Regions from separate parts of the Homo sapiens genome. Here region 1 is linked to region 2. The links come from fine-mapping of genetic effects on gene expression. A gene starts in region 2. The other region holds a variant in brackets. All regions are shown on one strand. Distances are from middle to middle. Region 1 overlaps OR10K1 (olfactory receptor family 10 subfamily K member 1). Region 2 holds the start of CD1D (CD1d molecule).

Region 1 (5,382 bases), 290 kb after region 2:
GTTATTTTTTGTTTCACTGTTGACTCAATGTTTCAACTTGTGGAACTTCCAATAGTATTTCTTATTGTTCCCTTGGAGATATAAAAAGTTCCCAGTAAATAGATGTGTGCTCACATCTTTACTTAGAGACCATGGAATACTTTATCTCCTTTCTCATTTCATGGTTGGATAAACTGAAGTCCACATGATTATGTCTGAATATTATTCATTCTTTCGTTCTATATTCTGATCAGCTTCAGGTAGCTGAAGTTAACGTTTTCCACTTTGGAGAGTGAGTTGCCTTGGGTTTATAGTAAGTGACAAAAACAACAATCTCTCTGTTACATAAGAAGGAAAACTATTAGCAAATTTCCTAATCCTTGGTCAGAGAGATAACCTGTTCTTCACATTAGAGAAGGCCTCCAAACTGGCTATCAGTTATTCTTTTGCATATTTTGCCTAATTCTTCTTTTAGCAGGCATTTTAATGGGGGAATGAAGAATTCCATCAAATATCTGGAAATGCCTGCCACCTGCAAACTTTGTGTGAAATTTCCCGTACATTTCCACTCTCCTTTCTGGATCCTGGTTTCTACCTCTGTCCCTGACTCTCCTTTATAGAAGTGCTCTCCATGGAGCAAGTCAATAAGACTGTGGTGAGAGAGTTCGTCGTCCTCGGCTTCTCATCCCTGGCCAGGCTGCAGCAGCTGCTCTTTGTTATCTTCCTGCTCCTCTACCTGTTCACTCTGGGCACCAATGCAATCATCATTTCCACCATTGTGCTGGACAGAGCCCTTCATACTCCCATGTACTTCTTCCTTGCCATCCTTTCTTGCTCTGAGATTTGCTATACCTTTGTCATTGTACCCAAGATGCTGGTTGACCTGCTGTCCCAGAAGAAGACCATTTCTTTCCTGGGCTGTGCCATCCAAATGTTTTCCTTCCTCTTCTTTGGCTCCTCTCACTCCTTCCTGCTGGCAGCCATGGGCTATGATCGCTATATGGCCATCTGTAACCCACTGCGCTACTCAGTGCTCATGGGACATGGGGTGTGTATGGGACTAATGGCTGCTGCCTGTGCCTGTGGCTTCACTGTCTCCCTGGTCACCACCTCCCTAGTATTTCATCTGCCCTTCCACTCCTCCAACCAGCTCCATCACTTCTTCTGTGACATCTCCCCTGTCCTTAAACTGGCATCTCAGCACTCCGGCTTCAGTCAGCTGGTCATATTCATGCTTGGTGTATTTGCCTTGGTCATTCCTCTGCTACTTATCCTAGTCTCCTACATCCGCATCATCTCTGCCATTCTAAAAATCCCTTCCTCCGTTGGAAGATACAAGACCTTCTCCACCTGTGCCTCCCATCTCATTGTGGTAACTGTTCACTACAGTTGTGCCTCTTTCATCTACTTAAGGCCCAAGACTAATTACACTTCAAGCCAAGACACCCTAATATCTGTGTCATACACCATCCTTACCCCATTGTTCAATCCAATGATTTATAGTCTGAGAAATAAGGAATTCAAATCAGCCCTACGAAGAACAATCGGCCAAACTTTCTATCCTCTTAGTTAAAGAGCTATTTTTTAAACTACTAATGCCTAGTACATGCCAGGCAGAACGTGTGTTTTATACATTTTTTTTCATTTAATTGTCCAGCTCCACTGTAACATAAGAACATTTTACATATGAGAAGAATGAGGCTCACAGAAGTTAAGACAGTCTGGCTTTCTACTCTCCATGATACTTTAACAAGACTAATCAGATATGGGAACAGAGCACACAGTTCCATAACAAATTTAATTATATTTTACTGCTTTAAATATTGCTAATTTAAAAACTAATATGAGAGCAAAGATGCATCTAAACTGATGAGAGCTGTGTCTTGAAGTAGAGAGCTTGGATACATCAGGAAAGAAAAGATGTATCCAAAAAAAAAAAAAGAAAGAAAAAAGAAAAAAAAAAGGAAAACAGCAGGAAATCCATCTATCCGTACTTTTCTTTTCCTAAAGACAACAGAAAACTTTGGTCCCACACATTCTGCTACAAATCTTGGTGGTCCTTTTTGTCCCCAATTCATTTCCTTAACCTACATATTGAAATATCTTGGCCTTTACTTGGGGTTGTTTTGTTCTTCCTTTGTTTGAGGTGGAACCACTTTATGGTTCTCTTCCTGATGCACATGTATGTCCTTCACATACTAGTGTGTCTTAGCCCCCACATTTGTTCCTGAGACACCATACTAATTTGCTCTCTTCAAGGAAGCTACTAGCATTGCCTACTTGCTGAAATATCTCAAGTAATTCCAAGCAAAGGGCTTGAGTTAATATTAATAGAAGGCTAGATTCCTAGAATGACCAGAAAACTCATGGAAAACCCTCCAGTGACTCCCTTTGCCCTACAAGATAATGCCAAGGGTCCTTCATTGTCATGAATCTATCATCTAGTTTCCACCTACCTCTTCAGTATTATCATTTCTAATTTTGTTATTCTCCATTTTCTATATGCCTTTTGTACACTCTGAAGCTAACCAACTATTTGCTTGTTTTAAAACAAATAAATGTGATGAACAAAATAAATGTGGTCTCTGCCCTCATAGGCCTTATTGCCTGGTTCAAGATAGTCCCAGTAAACAGAAAAATGAGGGAAAATACCTTACCAGTTTAAGTTGATTCTCTGAAGAAAAAGTGCATGCAGGCGATAGAGGAGAGAATACTAAGATAAACCTAATTTAGATCGAATGGCATAGGGTTGGTTTCCCAGAGAAACTGAGAGTTAACCTGCATGTAACCTGAAGGGTAATTAAAAGTCTTCAGGTAAAGGGGATATCCTTTAGGACAGAAGAAACAATGTGTACAAAACCCCTGAAGCAAGAACTGGATGAGTTGGAGACAAGCAAAGAAGGCCTGTATAAATGCTGTTTTAAAAATGCTTTTCAATTGACAAAATTATATATAT[T/A]TATGGTGTAAAACATGATATTTTCTCCCATCCTGTAGGTTGCCTGTTCACTCTGATGGTATTTTCTTTTGCTGTGCAGAAGCTCTTTAGTTTAATTAGATCCCATTTGTCAATTTTGGCTTTTGTTGCCATTGCCTTTGGTGTTTAGACATGAAGGCCTTGCCCATGCCTATGCCCTGAATGGTACTGCCTAGGTTTTCTTCTAGGGTTTTTATGGTTTTAGGTCTAACATGTAAGTCTTTTATCCATCTGGAATAAATTTTTGTATAAGGTGTAAGGAAGGGATCCAGTTTCAGCTTTCTACATATGGCTAGCCAGTTTTCCCAGCACCATTTATTAAATAGGGAATCCTTTCCCCATTTCTTGTTTTTGTCAGACAAAGGGCTAATATCCAGAATCTACAATGAACTCAAACAAATTTACAAGAAAAAAACAAACAACCCCATCAAAAAGTGGGCAAAGGATATGAACAGACACTTCTCAAAAGAAGACATTTATGCAGCCAGAAAACACATGAAAAAATGCTCATCACTGGCCATCAGAGAAATGCAAATCAAAACCACAATGAGATACCATCTCACACCAGTTAGAATGGCGATCATTAAAAAGTCAGGAAACAACAGGTGCGGGAGAAGATGTGGAGAAATAGGAACACTTTTACACTGTTGGTGGGACTGTAAACTAGTTCAACCATTGTGGAAGTCAGTGTGGCGATTCCTCAGGGATCTATAACTGGAAATACCATTTGACCTAGCCATCCCATTACTGGGTATATACCCAGAGGATTATAAATCATGCTGCTATAAAGACACATGCCCACGTATGTTTATAGCAGCACTATTCACAATAGCAAAGACTTGGAACCAACCTAAATGTCCAACAACGATAGACTAGATTAAGAAAATGTGGCACATATACACCATGGAATACTATGCAGCCATAAAAATAATGAGTTCATGTCCTTTGTAGGGACATGGATGAAACTGGAAACCATCATTCTCAGCAAACTATCGCAAGGACAAAAAACCAAACACCGCATGTTCTCACTCATAGGTGGGAATTGAACAATGAGAACACATGGACACAGAAAGGGGAACATCATACACTGGGGACTGTTGTGGGGTGGGGGGAGGGGGAGGGATAGCATTAGGAGATATACCTAATGCTAAATGACGAGTTAATGGGTGCAGCACACCAACATGGCACATGTATACATATGTAACAAACCTGCACGTTGTGCACATGTACCCTAAAACTTAAAGTATAATAATAATAAAATAAAAAAATTAAAAAAATACAAAAAAAACATGATATTTTGATACACATATGTATTGTAGAATGGCTAAAGTTAATTAACATATACCTTTAGCTCATGTACTTATTTGTTTGTGGTGAGAACACTTACAATCTACTGTTAGCAATTTTCAAGTATATAATACATTATTATTAACTATAGTCACCAAGATATGCAGTAGAGCTTTTAAAATTATTTCTCCTATCTAACTGAAATTTTGTACCCTTTGATAAACATTTTCAAAACTCTCCCCTCAACTGCTCAACCAATTTCAGCCTCTGGTAACCAACATTCTACTCTCTGCTTTTATGAGTTTGACTTTTTTTAGATTCCACATATGTGTGAGATCACATGGTGTTTGTCTTTCTGTTCCTGGCTTATTTCACTTAGCATAATATCATCCAGGTTCATCCATCTTGTTGCAAACAGGACTTCTTTCTATATATGGCTGAATAATATTTTATTGTGTATGTATACCACATTTTCTTATATTAGGTTGGTGCAAAAGTAATTGTGTATTTTTTTTTGCCATTACTTTCAATGGCAAAAACTGCAATAACTTTTGCACCAACCTAATACATTTGTCCGTTAATAGACACTTACTTAGGTTGATTCCACACCTTGACTATTGTGAATAATGCTACATAAACATGGGAGTGCAGCTATCTCTTTGACATTCTGACTTTATATCGATATACATCAAGTAGTGGAATTACAAGATCATATGGTAGTTATATTTTCAGTTTTTTGAGGAACCCCTTACTGAGTTCCATAATGGCTGTACTAATTTACAACTGTCAACAGTGTGTAGGGGTTCCCTTTTCTCCAAATCCTCCCTAACACTTTACATCTTTTGTCGTTTTGATAATAGCCATTCTAACAGGTGTGAGGCGATATCTCATTGTGGTTTTAATATGCATTTTCTGATGAATAGTGGGGTTGAGCATTTTTTCAGCTACCTACTGTCCATTTATATGTCTTGGGAAATGTCTATTCAGATTCTTTGCCCATTTCTAATTGGGTTATTTGTTATTTTATGATTGAGTTTTTAAAGTTCTTCACATGCTGTGAATGTTAACCCATTATCAGATATATGGTTTGCAAATATTTTCTCTCATTACATATGCTGTCTCTTTATTCTTTTGATTGTTAC
Region 2 (5,382 bases):
AGAGAGCTATCACAAGGTTTTCTAATCCTTATGTTTCTTTTAGTGGATCTCCAGGTTACTGTGGTTTGTATTATCAGGCTACTTACAAAAATGAATACCTCTTTAAATCAGGCCATTTTACAGCAAACTACGGTCCTTGATCACCATTATGCTCTGAATAAAGACTATGAGCAATTGCACTTGAATGCTGTTAAACTTTATTGACTGAACTTTGAATTGTTTGATTTTGATCAGGTTGGCTTGTGGAAAGTGCTATTAAGAAGAGTTCTTTAGTTCGTTGGTATTATCCTCCTGATAGCTATTATAAAAGTTTCCCTGATGTGTCCTCTCAAGAATCTTAAATTCTCATATGCAGCTATCCTTTGTACATTAAATGGTCTCCTTATGGTTAGGATAACAAAAACATGAAGAAAGCATATAAGATTCCAACTAATTTGACGTTGTGAATTGTGAATTCTGAACTGAAACCAAGTAAGTCCCTTATGATCAGGCTCCAAGGTTTTGGTCAGCCTCTCAAAATTGAGAGGCTGAAACCCTTTGACCAAAATTAACACATTTGCCCCTTCCCTCCAGCTCCTGGAAACCACTACCCTAACTCTGTTTCCATAAAATAGTAAACTATTTTAGAGTCCACATATAAGTGAGATCATGTAGTACCCACCGTGGGCTTATTTTAAGGCTCTGAGTAAATCACCATCTCTCTGTGCTAGGGTATTCTGAGTCAGTCTTGTTATAAAATATTTTGTTTAGGTAACATATTGCAAAACGTTTCATAATTCAATGGTTCCTTTCCCAGAAAAAAAGCAGTGAAAGTTCCAATAGCCAAAAAGTGTCTAACTCAACTGACCTTTGGGAAAAAATATCCGTATAATTCCAGATAGTCCTAACTTCTGAAGGTAATATAGCCTGGCCTCTGTTGATAAACAAACAAAAACAAAAAAACCACACACACACACACAAACCAGCTTCTTGTCTTTAAGTGTGCAAGAATGTTAGCACTTAAAATTTTTAAGATACACAAAAACTAAACAGAACTGTTCAAGTTTTTAAAGGGAGCTTGGAAATTTGAAGAAAGTAAAGTTAAAAATATTGCCCCATGAGTCATATAATTATTTTTCTTTTTATTTCTCATAGCTTCCCTCCTATCCATTATTTAGGCAATTTTGTATCCAAATTTAATAATTTAACACCTTATTTGTTACAAGAACACGTTACTATGTTATTTTAAGCTTTTTTGGGCAAATTACACATAATTAGATAGGCTGGGTTAGGGCTGTCTACAAGATCCCAGCCTAGAGTGTGGTGCAGTAGCCTATTTTCTCTAGGACTCTTGCTGCAACAGGATATGGGAGAAGGGAAACATTAACGTTAGCAGAATGGGAGGAATCAGATTATGGAGACATGATCCTTGCCTTCTGGCACCTCTCCAGCTGATTTAGAAGAGGACACAGAGGGAGACAGACATATGGCCATTTCTATAATTATAAACTCTGCTACATGCTGAGAGGATGGCTTCTCAAAGCCAGTTAGTGTACAAGCAGTGGAGGTTGGGACTGCCCTACTTCTCCTGCCTAGGGTCACACAGTCTGGCAGATCTGGAAAGACTTCCCTGAGAAAGTGACCTTGGAACTGATACCTTAGTGGAAATAACTAGGCATTGGGAGGGGGTGAGGTGAGGAGAAGGTCAAGAGCTTTCATGTAGAGGGAACTTTGTGCAGAGACCTTAGTCAGGAAGAGGTTTTGCATAGTGGAGGAACTGAAAGCTAACAGCCAGGCTACAGTACAGAGCAAATGATGCTGGGGTGTGAGGTGATGTCAAAAGGTAGACACCAGGGCTAGAGGGCGCATAATCTTGCAGGCCGTGCTAATGATTTTGTTTTCTACCCAAGAATGCTACTTCAGGAGATCAGTCAAAAGGTTAGGGTGATGGTGACGGTGGAAATATAGAAAAAGGAATTTATTCAAGAGGTATTCAAAAAGAAGTGAAATAGAGATGAGTTGGAGATAGATTGGATAAAAAGAGTGAGGGAGAGGGAGGTGTCAGGCTGCAGCCCAGGTTCTGAGTTGCCAAAGAGGAGTCTTTTCCTCCAGGTGAGCTAAGGCTTAGAACCACGATTTTTGGTCACTTTTTCTTATTTTCAGTGTGAGAAGTGGCGAGTTGGCTGTCCAGGTACACACTGTCATCTTACACTTACTGTTTAAGACAGAGGCGCATATTTGGAAAGTGAATGAGTCAGGAGCCAGAGGAGAAGGTATGCCGGCAGAGCCTAGGGCGGAGAGGAGGAAGAGAGTCTGGGGGCGCGTCCCCAAAAAGGAGACAGGGAAGACAGAGCAGAGGCCGGGGAGGGGAGAGCAAGGACCATGACAGGAGGAAAGAGAGGCTAGGGAACACTGAGGTGGAGGAATCCTGGGATATGACAGTTGTAAAGAATTGTAGCCAACCTAATCCAGTTCTCTCAATGTGCAACTGAGGAAATTAATTTTCATGCGTTTACTTTATTGTAAATGTGGTACTTGCACTTGAGAAATTTTGGAAAACATAAAGATGTAAAGCAAATTAAGATCACTCATAGTCTTTCCACCTAGAGACATGTACTGCTAAAGCAAGGACTTTGATCCTTTTTTCCCTTTGCATTTTTACCATGGTTGGAATTGTAACACAGACACAACCTTATGTCCTGCTTCCAAAACATAAATAATGGTTGTAAAGCGTCCCACACGTTGACCCAAAGTCTCCTTTGAAACAGGAAATTGAGACACGCCGGTTGTGAAACCTACTGAAGTGAGCGGCGGCGCCAGGATTCCTGGGACCCCGACCTCTTTGCAGCTCGCACAGCTAAGGGCGAGGGCGCCCTTCGGCAGAAGCAGCAAACCGCCGGCAAGCCCAGCGAGGAGGGCTGCCGGGGTCTGGGCTTGGGAATTGGCTGGCACCCAGCGGAAAGGGACGTGAGCTGAGCGGCGGGGGAGAAGAGTGCGCAGGTCAGAGGGCGGCGCGCAGCGGCGCTCCGCGAGGTCCCCACGCCGGGCGATATGGGGTGCCTGCTGTTTCTGCTGCTCTGGGCGCTCCTCCAGGCTTGGGGAAGCGCTGAAGGTGGGTGGAACGAGGGCGCTTGAGTGCACTCGCGGGAGGGCGGAGAGAGGGAGCTGGGTAGGGACGGGGAGGGCAACGCCTGATGGGGACTGGTGAGACCCGGGACGCACTGGCGCGATCTAGGTAGAAAACTCGCTGCTCCCTGGCTCCGGGGAGAGGCAGCGCGGCACAGAGTTCGCTGGCATCAGCCGCCTCCTGAAGCTCATCTCCTCTTGTTTCTTTCTTCCTTCTCTTTATGCTGGCTGCTCTCCCGGCCACTTGCTACACGCCTCCAATCTTCATTCTCTCCCAGTCCCGCAAAGGCTTTTCCCCCTCCGCTGCCTCCAGATCTCGTCCTTCGCCAATAGCAGCTGGACGCGCACCGACGGCTTGGCGTGGCTGGGGGAGCTGCAGACGCACAGCTGGAGCAACGACTCGGACACCGTCCGCTCTCTGAAGCCTTGGTCCCAGGGCACGTTCAGCGACCAGCAGTGGGAGACGCTGCAGCATATATTTCGGGTTTATCGAAGCAGCTTCACCAGGGACGTGAAGGAATTCGCCAAAATGCTACGCTTATCCTGTGAGCTGAGGGATAGGATCCTGGGCCGGTACCCAAGGGGAGAGAATGGCCACAGAAACTCAACTGGGAGACTGTGGCACCACCTGATGAGATTCTCTGCTCTGTCCACCCTCTTCTGATTTCCCTTCTACCTGGAGATGTCCCAGGCTTTGACTCCTCAAAGTGTCCCTCGTTCCTGCCTACTCCAGGTCACTTACTTTCCTTTCCCTGAAGTCTGGGTCCCCATTATAACCTGCACATCAATTTCTTCTCTTTCATCTCTCCCAGTCTTTTAAACCCTTCTTTGATCTTTCTCCATTCCTCTCCACAGATCCCTTGGAGCTCCAGGTGTCCGCTGGCTGTGAGGTGCACCCTGGGAACGCCTCAAATAACTTCTTCCATGTAGCATTTCAAGGAAAAGATATCCTGAGTTTCCAAGGAACTTCTTGGGAGCCAACCCAAGAGGCCCCACTTTGGGTAAACTTGGCCATTCAAGTGCTCAACCAGGACAAGTGGACGAGGGAAACAGTGCAGTGGCTCCTTAATGGCACCTGCCCCCAATTTGTCAGTGGCCTCCTTGAGTCAGGGAAGTCGGAACTGAAGAAGCAAGGTCAGCCTGCCTTCCTTACTCCCTGCATTCCACTTCAGGGCTCCAAACGGGCTTTTCCATTCCAGGGTTCTCATCCCTTTGAGCATTCAAAGAAGAGGAAGGCCCAGGAGGGGCTGGATAAGGGGTGAGGGTATTTATTCATTTCACAGACATCAACTGAGCACCTCTTGGGTTCTATGAATTCAATTAATGAACAACTGGGGGTGAAAGGTGTCAGGCAGTTAGTTAGGATCCCTGCTTGGTAGGGGGATGTTAATTAATGCAATGCTTGAAATAGGCTACATATGTTACTTCAAAACAAAGGGTGTTATAGGGGAACAGACAAGGGGCATTCATAGGAGGCTGGGACCAGAGAAGAAGAAGGAGTATCAGGGCAGGCTCCCTGAAGAAGGTGGGACAAATGGATTGAAAGTTGTGGGAGACTTCATTTCCAGAAGTGAACATGTCAGGGGCATACAGGAAGGAGGGAAATAAAGACCTGAAAGTCAAAAAGGATGATATGAGGCCTGGAGCCTCTAATGCAGAGTTTTCACTTTAAGATCCCCCCCATTCCCTTGTTGGATACAGTGAAGCCCAAGGCCTGGCTGTCCCGTGGCCCCAGTCCTGGCCCTGGCCGTCTGCTGCTGGTGTGCCATGTCTCAGGATTCTACCCAAAGCCTGTATGGGTGAAGTGGATGCGGGGTGAGCAGGAGCAGCAGGGCACTCAGCCAGGGGACATCCTGCCCAATGCTGACGAGACATGGTATCTCCGAGCAACCCTGGATGTGGTGGCTGGGGAGGCAGCTGGCCTGTCCTGTCGGGTGAAGCACAGCAGTCTAGAGGGCCAGGACATCGTCCTCTACTGGGGTGAGAAAAAGCTGGGCCCAAGCTGGAAATGGCAGGAGGTGGTCCTCAGGCATAGAGGGAGGCACTGGGGTGGGATGTGGCTTGATATACCCAGGTTAGAGGAGTTTCAGAGATGAGGCCCCCAGTAAAAGGATAGAGAGAGGGGTTCCAGACACAGGAAGGAGGGAAATAAAGACCTGAAAGTCTAAAAGGATTGAAATAGTGCTCTCTATATACAAGAAGAAACAAGACTACAAAACTCAGGGATCCAGAAGTAGGCAGCGAATAAACAATCCCAGGACGATTCATTCCTTGGCT

Evidence for each region. PIP is the estimated chance that this variant, and not a neighbour inherited with it, causes the effect.
Region 1: its variant is the best candidate, but not a certain one, in a credible set for the expression of CD1D in whole blood (INTERVAL, PIP 0.57).

The regions. Positions count from the first base shown.
Region 1 is chr1:158,464,952-158,470,333 of GRCh38, forward strand. OR10K1 (olfactory receptor family 10 subfamily K member 1) reads left to right here. Exons shown (of 2, transcript NM_001004473.2): 2 at 455-2,507. The coding sequence starts at 611. The coding sequence ends at 1,552. Among named protein-coding and RNA genes, the nearest start is that of OR10R2, 4.6 kb to the right of the region's middle. The variant T/A (reference allele first, on the strand shown) is at 2,936.
Region 2 is chr1:158,178,072-158,183,453 of GRCh38, forward strand. CD1D (CD1d molecule) reads left to right here and starts at 2,824. Exons shown (of 6, transcript NM_001371762.2): 1 at 2,824-3,091; 2 at 3,384-3,650; 3 at 3,961-4,239; 4 at 4,807-5,085. The coding sequence starts at 3,031. RefSeq lists a silencer at 1,833-1,882 and an enhancer at 3,295-3,354.